3 linked regions of the Homo sapiens genome follow. The protein of the gene in region 2 purifies or fractionates together with the protein of the main gene of each other region. This does not show direct contact. Each region holds a gene or a part of one and is shown on either strand. Other genes may lie near its edges.

Evidence for each region.
Region 1: the proteins of ABHD12 (region 2) and TBC1D9B purify together in Homo sapiens (affinity purification with mass spectrometry; one large-scale study listed by BioGRID and IntAct). This does not show direct contact.
Region 3: the proteins of ABHD12 (region 2) and FSD2 purify together in Homo sapiens (co-immunoprecipitation; one large-scale study listed by IntAct). This does not show direct contact.

What each region holds. Positions count from the first base shown.
Region 1 is NC_000005.10:179,894,261-179,897,913, forward strand, and holds part of TBC1D9B (TBC1 domain family member 9B), read right to left. Parts: intron 355-3,653; coding exon 126-354; intron 1-125. UniProt on the Homo sapiens protein: May act as a GTPase-activating protein for Rab family protein(s).
Region 2 is NC_000020.11:25,384,194-25,387,846, reverse strand, and holds part of ABHD12 (lysophosphatidylserine lipase ABHD12), read left to right. Parts: intron 1-3,653.
Region 3 is NC_000015.10:82,795,987-82,799,639, forward strand, and holds part of FSD2 (fibronectin type III and SPRY domain-containing protein 2), read right to left. Parts: intron 381-3,653; exon of another isoform or gene 264-380; intron 1-263.

The sequences.
Region 1 (3,653 bases), on a different chromosome or scaffold from region 2:
CTAAGGTGGCATTTGGGTTTCAGGGAGACCCCTCTGGTGGCCATGTGGGGATGGAGTATCTGGGGGCCGAAGGCAGGGAGGGGCTGAGGGTGTGGGGGCTGGGGCACACTGAGGGGCGGGCTCACCTTCCTTCCCCAGCAGGAAGGAGTAGAAGCACAGGTGGTTGACCGTCAGGTACAGCCAGCCCTGCCGGGGCACGCGGCCCTTCCAGTAGCTGCAGGAGTAGTAATTCACCAGCTTCTCGCCCTCAGGCATCCCAAACTGCTTCCGCATCTTCAGCTCAGCCTCCTTGAACTTCCCGGGGTCCTCGTCTCCCTGGGGCTGCAGGTTCTTGTTCTCTTCTGCGATGATTCCCTGGAGGAAGGCAAGAGGACAAGGGCTTGCCCTGCACAGTCCCGGACAGGTCAAAGGGTGGAGCAGAGAGGCCCAGGGAACCCAGGACTCATGGACCTTGGTCTAAGGGCTACAGGCACAGCTGGGAACAGTCAGTGGCTCTTGCTGGCTTGCAGTCAAGGCACATGGATGAGAGACGCTGCCTGTGTGACTCTCTAGACAAAGTTCCTGCAACTCCCGTAACTACTGTCATCACCAGTTGTGAGCAGAGGCTTTTTAAAAAAATTAAGACAGGGTCTCACTCTGTCACCCAAGCTGGAGTGCAGTGGCTCAACCACGGCTCACTGTAGCCTCAACCCAACAGCTGAAGCCATCCTCCTGCCTCAGCCTCCCAAGTAGTTGGGACTATAGGTGTACTCCACCACACCTGGCTAATTTTGTACTTTTTGTAGAAATGGGGTTTTGCCATGTTGCCCAGGCTGGTCTCAAACTCCTGGGCTCAAGTGATCCGCCCGCCTCAGCCTCCCAAAGTGCTGGGATTACAGGTGTGAACCACTGTGTCTGGCCTGACACTTTTAAAATGAATATTTCAGTTATTTTCATGTAAAATTGTTGAAACATTATCCATAAACATGGTAAAAAATGCATACAGTAGAAATGTGTATTCAGTGAAAAGGGAATCTTTTCTCGCTCTCTGTAGTGACTTTCCTGGTTCCTTCCAGACATGCAAACACCAATGGATTCATAAGCAAATGTATGTTTTCCTCTTTCCCCCTTTATTTGCCCAAATGGGATCACCCTGCAGCTCTGTTCTGTAAAGCGCTTCTCTTATCACATCCTGGAGGACGTCCTGCACTTGGCCCCCTGTATGCCAGGGGGCTCCTGCCTCTTGGCCCTGCACACAAACCAGCGGCAGGACCTGCAGTTTCAGGGCCCGTCCATACTCCCTCATGCTGCTGGCATTGTTACAGGGCTCAGGGTGCCCAGAGACATCCCCCTGGGCCACAGAGCCAGCCCCAAGCCTCCTGGGGTAAAACAGGTCCTCAGCAGTGCCCTCAGCTCAAAATGTACACATTGATTTTCTAGAAAGACAATTACAAGATAAACTAGTCAGTCAAGGTCAGTGCTGGTGGCTGGGCCACCCCCGATCCCTCTGTCCATGGGCAGTGAGGACAGCCATGAGCCTAGGTGAGGACTGAAAGGTGGGATCTGTTCTGATTTCTTCTATTTCTGAGTAGCCAGGGAAGGAAACTACAATATGCCATCCCAAAATATGCCCTTTTGACATAAGAAGTATTTTGAGCTGAAGGCAATTAAGTAGCAGCAAACACAGGAAAAGCTCTTTCTGCCCTCCCTCCCCCTTTCTGCCTAAAAGCTGGATATACGTTCTCCTTTATTGGAGACAATTCTAGATTCCTATCAGCCCAGAGATGACACCGCACGCATCTGCAAACAAACCTTACTCCATCGGTTTCATCCCACGTATTTATCTTCTCACAGTTTCCTGCCCTTGGAAGCATAAGCTGTTTTCGTCTGTCCTGTTATTGTTCTTTAAGTGGCCTGTCCCTGTGTTAAGAGGCTGTGTAAACCCAATTCCAACTAAACTTTTGAGTCACCTATCCAAGTTTCTCCCATGAATATATGAGATACACACATTAGTAAACTTCTGTTTTTGTCTTGTTAATCTGCCTTTTGTAACAGAGCCCCAGCCAAGAACCTAAATGGGGAGAAGGAAAAGGGTTTTTCTTCTCTTATACCAGTGCTACCGCAGCTGCGATCTAAACATCTCTCTCCAAAGTGCTGGGATTACAGGTGTGAGCCACCGCGCCTAGCCAAACTGGTGTTCTTTTAAGCCACTAAGTTGATGGTAATTTGTTGCAGAAGCAACTGGAAATTAATAAATGTTATTCTAATAAAGTGCCCATTTTGTCTAAATTCTTTTTTTTTTAGACAGGGTCTCACTCTATTGCCCAGGCTGGAATGCTGTGGCGCAATCTTGGCTCACTGCAACCTCTGCCTCCCGGGTTCAAGCAATTCTTGTGCCTCAGCCTCCCAAATAGGTGGGATTACAGGTGCGCGACACCATGCCCAGCTAATTTTTTATATTTTTAGTAGAGACAAGGTTTTGCCATGTTGGCCAGGCTGGTCTTAAACTCCTGGCCTCAAGTGATCCACCTGCCTTAGCCTCCCAAAGTGCTAGGATTACGGGTGTGAGACACCACGCCCAGCCCCATTTTGTCTAAATTCTTAAAGGTACTGGTTTAAGGCTGTTTTGTCATCCTCTCTCTTTAGAGTTTTGCTTTTTTAAAGATGCTCCTCACAGCGTATTTTGAGACGGAGTCTCGCTCTGTTGCCCAGGCTGGAGGGCAGTGGCATGATCTCGGCTCACTGCAACCTCCGCCTCCCAGGTTCATGCCATTCTCCTGCCTCAGCCTCCCGAGTAGCTGGGACTACAGGCCCCCGCCACCATGCCCGGCTAATTTTTTTGTATTTTTAGTAGAGATGGGGTTTCACTGTGTTAGCCAGGATGGTCTCGATCTCCTGACCTCGTGATCCGCCCGCCTCGGCCTCCAAAAGTGCTGGGATTACAGGCATAAGCCACTGCGCCTGGCCCATCCTTCCTTCTTTTGTAAGACTGAAGGCTTTAAATTTCCTTCTGTGTATTGCTCTCACTGCATCCCACACATCCTGACATGCAGTAGTATTTCAATCATTTTCTTTTCTTTTTTTTTTTTTTGAGATGGAGTCTCGCTCTGTTGCCCAGGCTGGAGTGCAGTGGTGTGATCTCAGCTCACTGCAACCTCTGCCTCCTAAGTCCAAGTGATTCTCCTGCCTCAGTCTTCCATTCCGAGTAGCTGGGACTACAGGCCCATGCCACCACGCCCAGCTACTTTTTAAATATTTTTAGTAGAGACAGGGTTTTGCCATGTTGGCAAAGGATGGCTGGCCTTGATCTCCTGACCTCAAGTGATCCGCCCGTCTTGGCCTCCCAGAGTGCTGGGATTACAGGTGTGAGCCACCACACCTGGCCTCAATTCTAAATATTTTCTAATTTCCATTTCTTCCTTGGCCTATGAGTCATTTGGTTTGTTCTGCTGATGCGTTTGTTGGGCCTGGCATATAGGAGGCAGTGAATAATGTCACAACTACTATTATTATCATCGCCCAATTGCTCACCAGAGTAAAGGCTTGCTTCTGCTCTCTCCACCTGTTTTCCTGGAGATAGAGGTAACCAGGTCTCACCTTGAACCCCAAAGTGCACTGAGAAGAGCTGAGAAAGCTGGTAATGTCTGTCCAGGCTTAGGAAGTTCTGGTATCAG
Region 2 (3,653 bases):
CTGGTCTCGAACTCGTGACCTCGTGATCCACCCACCTCGGCCTCCCAAATTGCTGGGATTACAGGCGTGAGCCACAGCGCCCGGCCTGGAATATTTTTAAACAATTTTTTTTTTAAGAAAGTTCCGTCACCCAGGCTGGAGCACAGTGGCATGATCATGGCCCACTGCAGCCCAGACCTCCTGGGCTCAGGCGATCCTCCCATATCGATGCTGGGTGTATGCCACCACTCCTGGTTAATTTTTTTTTTTTTTTTTTAATAGAGATGAAGTCTCACTATGTTGCCCCCAGGCTGGTCTTGAATTTCTGGCTTCAAGCGATCCTTCTTCCTGGCCTCCCAAAGTGTTAGGTATGAAATACCGTGCCAGGCCTAAATTCTCCTGCCTCAGCCTCCCGAGAAGGTGGGATTACAGGCATGTGCCACCACACATGGCTAATTTTTGTATTTTTTGTAGAGATGGGGTTTCACCATGTTGGCCAGACTGGTCTCCAACTCGTGACTTCAAGTGATCTCCCTGTCACGGCCTCCCAAAGTGTTGGGATTACAGGTGTGAGCCACCATGTCTGACCTCTTTTTCTTTTCTGATTGCATTGTATTTCTAGAACAAAGTTAAATAATAGGGATGACACTGAGTAACTTGTTTCATTCCTGACTTTAATGAGAATGCTGTTAGTGTTTTTGCCATTTAAGTGCCATGCTGGGGTGTGTTGCTAATGTTGTGGGGAGCTTTTTGTTTTTGTTCCTGCTCCCTCACTGATGTTTTTAAAATAAAAAATGGTGATTGAGTTTTCTCAAATGCCAGTGTACATCTGTGGAATGATCATAGAGATTTTCTTCTTTTATCTGTTAACATAATGAGTTATAGTAATGGATTTATATTATTGAATCATCATTGTATTCCTGGGATAAACTCTCTTATTGTATAGCCAGATTCTATTTATTCATTTATTTTTTATTTTTATTTTTTGAGGCGGGGTTTCACTCTGTTGCCCAGGCTGGAGTGCAGTGGCACGATCTCGGGTCACTGCAACTTCTGCCTCCCAGGTTCAAGCAATTCTCTGGCCTCAGCCTCCCGGGTAGCTGGGATTACAGGCACCTGCCACCATGCCCGGCTAATTTTTGTATTTTTAATGGAGACGGGATTTTGCCATGTTGACCAGGCTGGACTCGACCTACTGACCTCAGATAATCTGCCTGCCTCAGCCTCCCAAAATGCTGGGATTATAAGGCGTGAGCCACCGCACCTGGCCTATTTATTAATATTTTATTTTGAAATTTTACATCATGAGGCCGGGCTCGGTGGCTCACGCCTGTAATCCCAGCACTTTGGGAGGCCGAGGCAGGCTGATCACGAGGTCAGGAGATCGAGACCATCCTGGCTGACGGGTGAAACCCCGTCTCTACTAAAAAATACAAAAAAAATTAGCCAGGCGTGGTGGCGGGCGCCTGTAGTCCCAGCTACTCAGGAGGCTGAGGTAGGAGAATGGCATGAATCCGGGAGGTGGAGCTTGCAGCGAGCCCAGATTGCACCACTGCACTCCAGCCTGGGCGACAGAGCAAGACTCCATCTCAAAAAAAAAAAAAGAAAGAAAAAGAAATTTTACATCATTTGTGAGAATAGTCTGTAATTTTCTCTTATGCAACCTTTATCAAGTTGTTTTAGTGTTTTCTATAGCTTTGTAAAAAGTTTCTTACATAACATTTTATTCTAAACTTTTATTTTTATTATTATTATTATTATTTTTTTGAGACGGAGTCTCGCTGCATCACCCAGGCTGGAGTGCAGTGGCGCGATCTTGGCTCACTGCAAGCTTTGCCTCCCGGGTTCACGCCATTCTCCTGCCTCAGCCTCCCAAGTAGCTGGGACTACAGGTGCCCACCAACACACCTGGCTAATTTTTTGTATTTTTTTTAGTAGAGACGGGGTTTCACCGTGTTAGCCAGGATGGTCTCAATCTCCTGACCTCGTGATCCGCCTGCCTTGGACTCCGAAAGTGCTGGGATTACAGGTGTCAGCCACCGCACCCGGCCATTTTATTCTAAACTTTTAGCCAGCTTAAGAATTTTTTAAATTATTTGTTTAAAATTTGGTAGAAATTCTCTTGTAAAACTGTCTAAGCCTGGTGCCTTTCTATTTATTTATTTATTTATTTATTTAAATTTTTTGGTACAGGCAGGTCTTGCCACGTTGCCTAGGCTGGTCTTGAACTTCTCTCTCAAGCAGTCCTTCCACCTCTGTCCCCCAAAGTATTGGGATTATAGGCATGAGCCACCACCCTAGCCAGTGCTGTTTCAGAATATAGCACTTCGGTAACTACTACAGTGTCTTCTACGTCTGTTTAGAATTTGCTATGTCCTGGTTTCAGTTTTGGTGGTTTATGTATTCTTATAAAATTACCAATTTAATTCACCTTTTCTCCTCTGTAGCTATGGCCATTTCCCTAGTTTTCTTCCCTGTTTTTTGTAATTAGGGTTTTTCCTCCGTTTTCCTCTTTTTTTTTTTTTTTTTTTTTTTTGAGTCTCACTCTTGTTGTCCAGGTTGGAGTGCAATGGCATGATCTTGGCTCATTGCAACCTCCGCCTCCCAGTTTCAAGCGATTTTCCTGCCTCCGCCTCCCGAGTAGCTGGGATTACAGGTATGTGCCACCACACCCAGCTAATTTTGTATTTTTAGTAGAGACAGGGTTTCTCCATGTTGGTCAGGCTGGTCTCAAACTCCCAACCTCAGATGTTCCACCCGCCTTGGCCTCCCAAAGTGTTGGGATTACAGGCGTGAGCCACCGCGCCTGGCCTGCTTTTTCCTCCTGATTTAGGCTAGTCAGTAATATATCTAATATCCATACATACACTGAAGTGGGGAAATATATATACACACACACATACACACACACACATGTTTTGTGCTCCATCAAAGAAAATATCTCTTTTTAGTTCTGGGGGATGCTGAGAAGTGGAGAGAACAGGTTCTTTCTGAAGGGGACAGCAGCTACCACACCCTGTCCTGTTGCTGCCTGGCAGGAATGTGGTCCCAGAGTGGCCAGATTGTCCAGTCTTTCTGGAAAAGACTAGCTGGTGTTTTTTTTAGTTTGTTTTGTTTTGTGTTTGAGATCGGGTTTGGCTCTACACCCGGACTGGAGTGCTGCAGTGCAGTCATGGCTCACTGCAGCCTCTGCCTCTCAGGGTCAAATGGTCTTCGCACCTCAGCCTTACAAGTAGCTGGGACTACAGGCACCCACCACCATGCCTAGCTAATTTTTGTATTTTTTGTAGAGACAGAGTTTTGCCATGTTGCCCAGGCTGGACTTGAACTCCTGAGCTCAAGTGATCCACCCGCCTAAGCCTCCCAAAGTGCTGGGATTACAGGCATGAGCCAGTGCACCCGGCCTTTTGTTTGTTTATATAGTTTTTTTTTTGTCTTAGTGTGTGTGCTTGTGTGTGTGTGTGTAGTATTGCCAACTTTTTTAACATTGGTAAGTAACTCAGATGAGAACAATTTTGGAGGTTAAAAAAAAAACCCCAAACCAGTTTTTTTTGTTTTTAAATTCTGGGCCAAAAGATAATTTTTAAAGGTAAATATTTATCTCATTCATAGGTCAACTCTGTACTCCTTGAGACGAGGAACTAGATCAGTTTTGCTTTGCATGGTATCTGGTG
Region 3 (3,653 bases), on a different chromosome or scaffold from region 2:
TTCTTTTTCTTTTCTTTTTTTTTTTTTTTTTTTGAGATGGAGTTTTGTGCTTGTTGCCCAGGCTGGAGTGCAGTGGCGCGATCTCTGCTCACTCAACCACCGCCTTCTGGTTTCAAGTGATTCTCCTGACTCAGCCTCCCAAGTAGCTGGGATTACAGGCATCCGCAACCACATCCAGCTAATTTTTGTATTTTTTAGTAGAGACGGGGTTTCACCATGTTGTCCAGGCTGGTCTCAAACTCCTGACTTTGTGATCCACCCACCTTGGCCTCCCAAAGTGCTGGGATTAGAGGCGTGAGCCACTGCGCCCGGGAGAAGTTGTGATTTCAACCCACATCATGGCAAACGGAATTGTCCTGGCCAGAGCTGGTCCCCAGTGGCTGTAAAAGCAAGAAAAACATATGGAAACACAGGTGAACCAAGGTTGGCTGGCAGGTGAGCTGAAGAAGTTGGCAGCATTGCTGCGGGCATAAGACGTATTAGGAGAACCAACGGAAAGTGGTCACCAGGCCTCATGAGAGACTCTGAGCCACAATCACCCAGACGAACTGTTCTCAGGTTCTTGACCCTCAGAAACGATTCAAGAGAATAAATATTTGTTGTTTTAAGCTGTCAAGTTTTGAAATAATTTGTTATGCCACAATAGATGACTAGTTCATTGTCCCAGACTAAAAATAAACTTTCCACCCAGCTTTCTCTGCTAGCTGCTATTCTCTCTTTCTCCCCTTTCCCTCTCCAGACTCCATCAAAGGGTGGCATTTCCACCATCACTCTTCAGGCTATGGAATCTGTATGCGAAGACTTTCCAAGGGGTACATGGTATAGATAGCTTCAGGAGGATCAGCTCCCAGATGCTCAACTTTATATTTAATCTTTCCCAGAGCTGCTCTGCCTGGGAAGGAACTAGCATTTGAGGCTTCATGTAGATTCTTTTTTCACAATAGTCCTTTTTCTCTTTATTACAAAAGTAAAACTATACCTCTCACTTATCCTGAATATTTCATTGCACTGTAAGATTTCATTGCTTGGTAATTAAAAAAAAAAAAAAAAAAAAACACCTCCAGGGGACTAAATGGAAGGACAATTTGAAGTATTGCTATCAATGGTGGAGGGTGAATGACATTAATGAATGCATAAGAAAAAATTTGTTTTCAAGCTAAGTGGTTTCCAGTTCTTTGCTTTCAATAAAGTTGAAGGAGGATCTAATCAAATTGTCAGCTAATATATGATTAAAAATAATTTTTCATGATAGATCACTATGTACTTTTTGAAACACATTTCAGAAAGAGTTCAAAAATGTGAGTGACATTGCTATAATAAAACACTTTCATTTCCATCAATGTTTGATTACGTAGCTAAGCAAGGTTGCTCTGTTCTTACATCAACAAAATGAAAAGCGGAAAGACAATTGACCCTAATTCCTGTTGCAGTCTAAAATATGTAATTTTCATCAATGGATACACAAATAAACTTTTTTTAAAAAAGCTCCATCTACCTCATTAAGAGATGCATTTCCATTTTATTTTTCATTTAACAATTATTGGCCAGGCGTGGTGGCTCACGCCTGTAATCCCAACACTTTGGGAGGCCGAGGCGGGCAGATCATGAGGTCAGGAGATCGAAACCGTCCTGGCTAACACGGTGAAACCCCATCTCTACTAAAAATACAAAAAATTAGCCGGGCGTGGTGGCGGGCGCCTGTAGTCCCAGCTACTTGGGAGGCTGAGGCAGGAGAATGGCGTGAACCTGGGAGGCGGAGGTTGCAGTGAGCCAAGATCACGCCACTGCACTCCAGCCTGGGCGACAGAGCGAGACTCCATCTCAAAAATAACAATAATAATTATTATTATTTACCAAAATTTGTAATATGTTTATGTTATTTTGCTTACATGTGATTAAAAGTTGTATTGGTAACTTCATCCAAAAGAAAAAAAGAGTTTAATATTCAGAGATGTATGGTCCCAGGAGAACAAGAGAAAATCTTTCATCTCAAGTTATACATCTGTATTTTTGTAGAGAAGTATCATAGATGACCAACAAAAGACTTTCCAAGCACAGAAAAATATTACAGGTCAGGTACAGTGGCTGACACCCGTTATCCAAGCACTTTGGGAGGCAAAGGTGGGAGGACCACTTGAGCTTAGGAGTTCGAGACCAGCCTGGGCAACAAAAAGAAACCTCACCTCTATTTAAAAATCAAAAAACAAAACTAGCCCAGCGTGGTGGTGTGTGCCTGCAGTCCCAGCTACTCGGGATGCTAAGGTGGGAGGATCACTTTAGCTTGGAAGATTGAGGCTGCAGTGAGCTATTATCTTGCCACTGCACTCCAGCCTGGGTGACAGAGCAAGACCCTGTCAGAAGATAGAAAGGAAGAAAGAACGAAAGGAAGAAAATTCATGTTTTAAGTGCACAATTCAATGATTTTTAGTAAATTCCCCAAATTGTGCAGCCATCATCACAATCCAGTTCCTAATGCCTACCCCCATTAAAAAATTGTGGTAAATCTAATGTCTTTTTTTAAAAAAACTAATATTATTAAACTATTTTAACATGACATATATATATAATGTTTTGAGAAAAATAAGCAAAATATTTTAAGATATGGTTTAGCACTGTTTTTTCCTTATCCATCACTTTTATGATCCAGTTTTCCTTAACTTCCATTTATGTGATCAAAGTTAGCAGCCAGCTGTTTGTCTTCCCTATTTGTTCCACAGTTGTACACAGAAAACAGAAGTCAACAAGTTCGTCGGCTTCCCCTATCAGCTCTGTTTAACTTTCTGCAGTGATAGACTGTCACTTCTGCTGATAGACTGTCCTTTTAATAGCCACTTCCCAAACTATATTTTTAAAAAGGCATTAAGTTTTCTTTCCACTATCTCCACTGTTTTGTTTTTTTTTTTTTTTTTGAGACAGGGTCTTGCTCTGTTGCCCAGGTTGGAGCACAGTGGTGAAATCTCAGCTCACTGCAGCCTTGACCTTCTGGGCTCAAACAATCCTCCCACCTCAGCCTCCTGAGCAGATGGGATCACAGGCATGCACCACCACGCCTGGCTAATTTTTGTAATTTTTGTAGAGACACGGTCTCACTATGTTGCCCAGGCTGGTCTCAAACTCCTGCTTAAGCAATCCTCCCGCCTTGGTCTCCCAAAATGTTGGGATTACAGGTGTGAGCCAATGCGCCTGGCCTATCTCCACTTTTGATTGCCCTTTTAATATAACATTTTCTCATGGCCTAATTTGGAAATTCATGGACCCTGTCTGGTGCTCTCCTGACTGCTCCATGCCATTCAATCCTATTGACCCTTCTGTGTCCCCCGGCTCAGCTGGGATTTCCCCTAGGCCACTGACTGCTGAAATCTCTGCCAAGTTCCTCCCCTTGGCTGCTCTTTATATGCAGGCATCCCCTTAACCTCCATTCTAGGCCCTCTTCCCACTCTCCACTTGCTCTAGGTGATCTCATCCAGTCTCACAGCTTCTATGTCCCCGTCTTTTCTGAGGGCTCCAAATCCATGTCTCTGGCTCTAACCTGTGCCCCATGCAGAGGCAGAGGCTCAGAGGTGCAGCTGCTGTCTTGAGCAGCCCCCTCCAGCAGCCCCCTCAAACTCAGCACTGCCAGATGGAGCTCATTGCCTCTCTCTTTCCCCAACTCA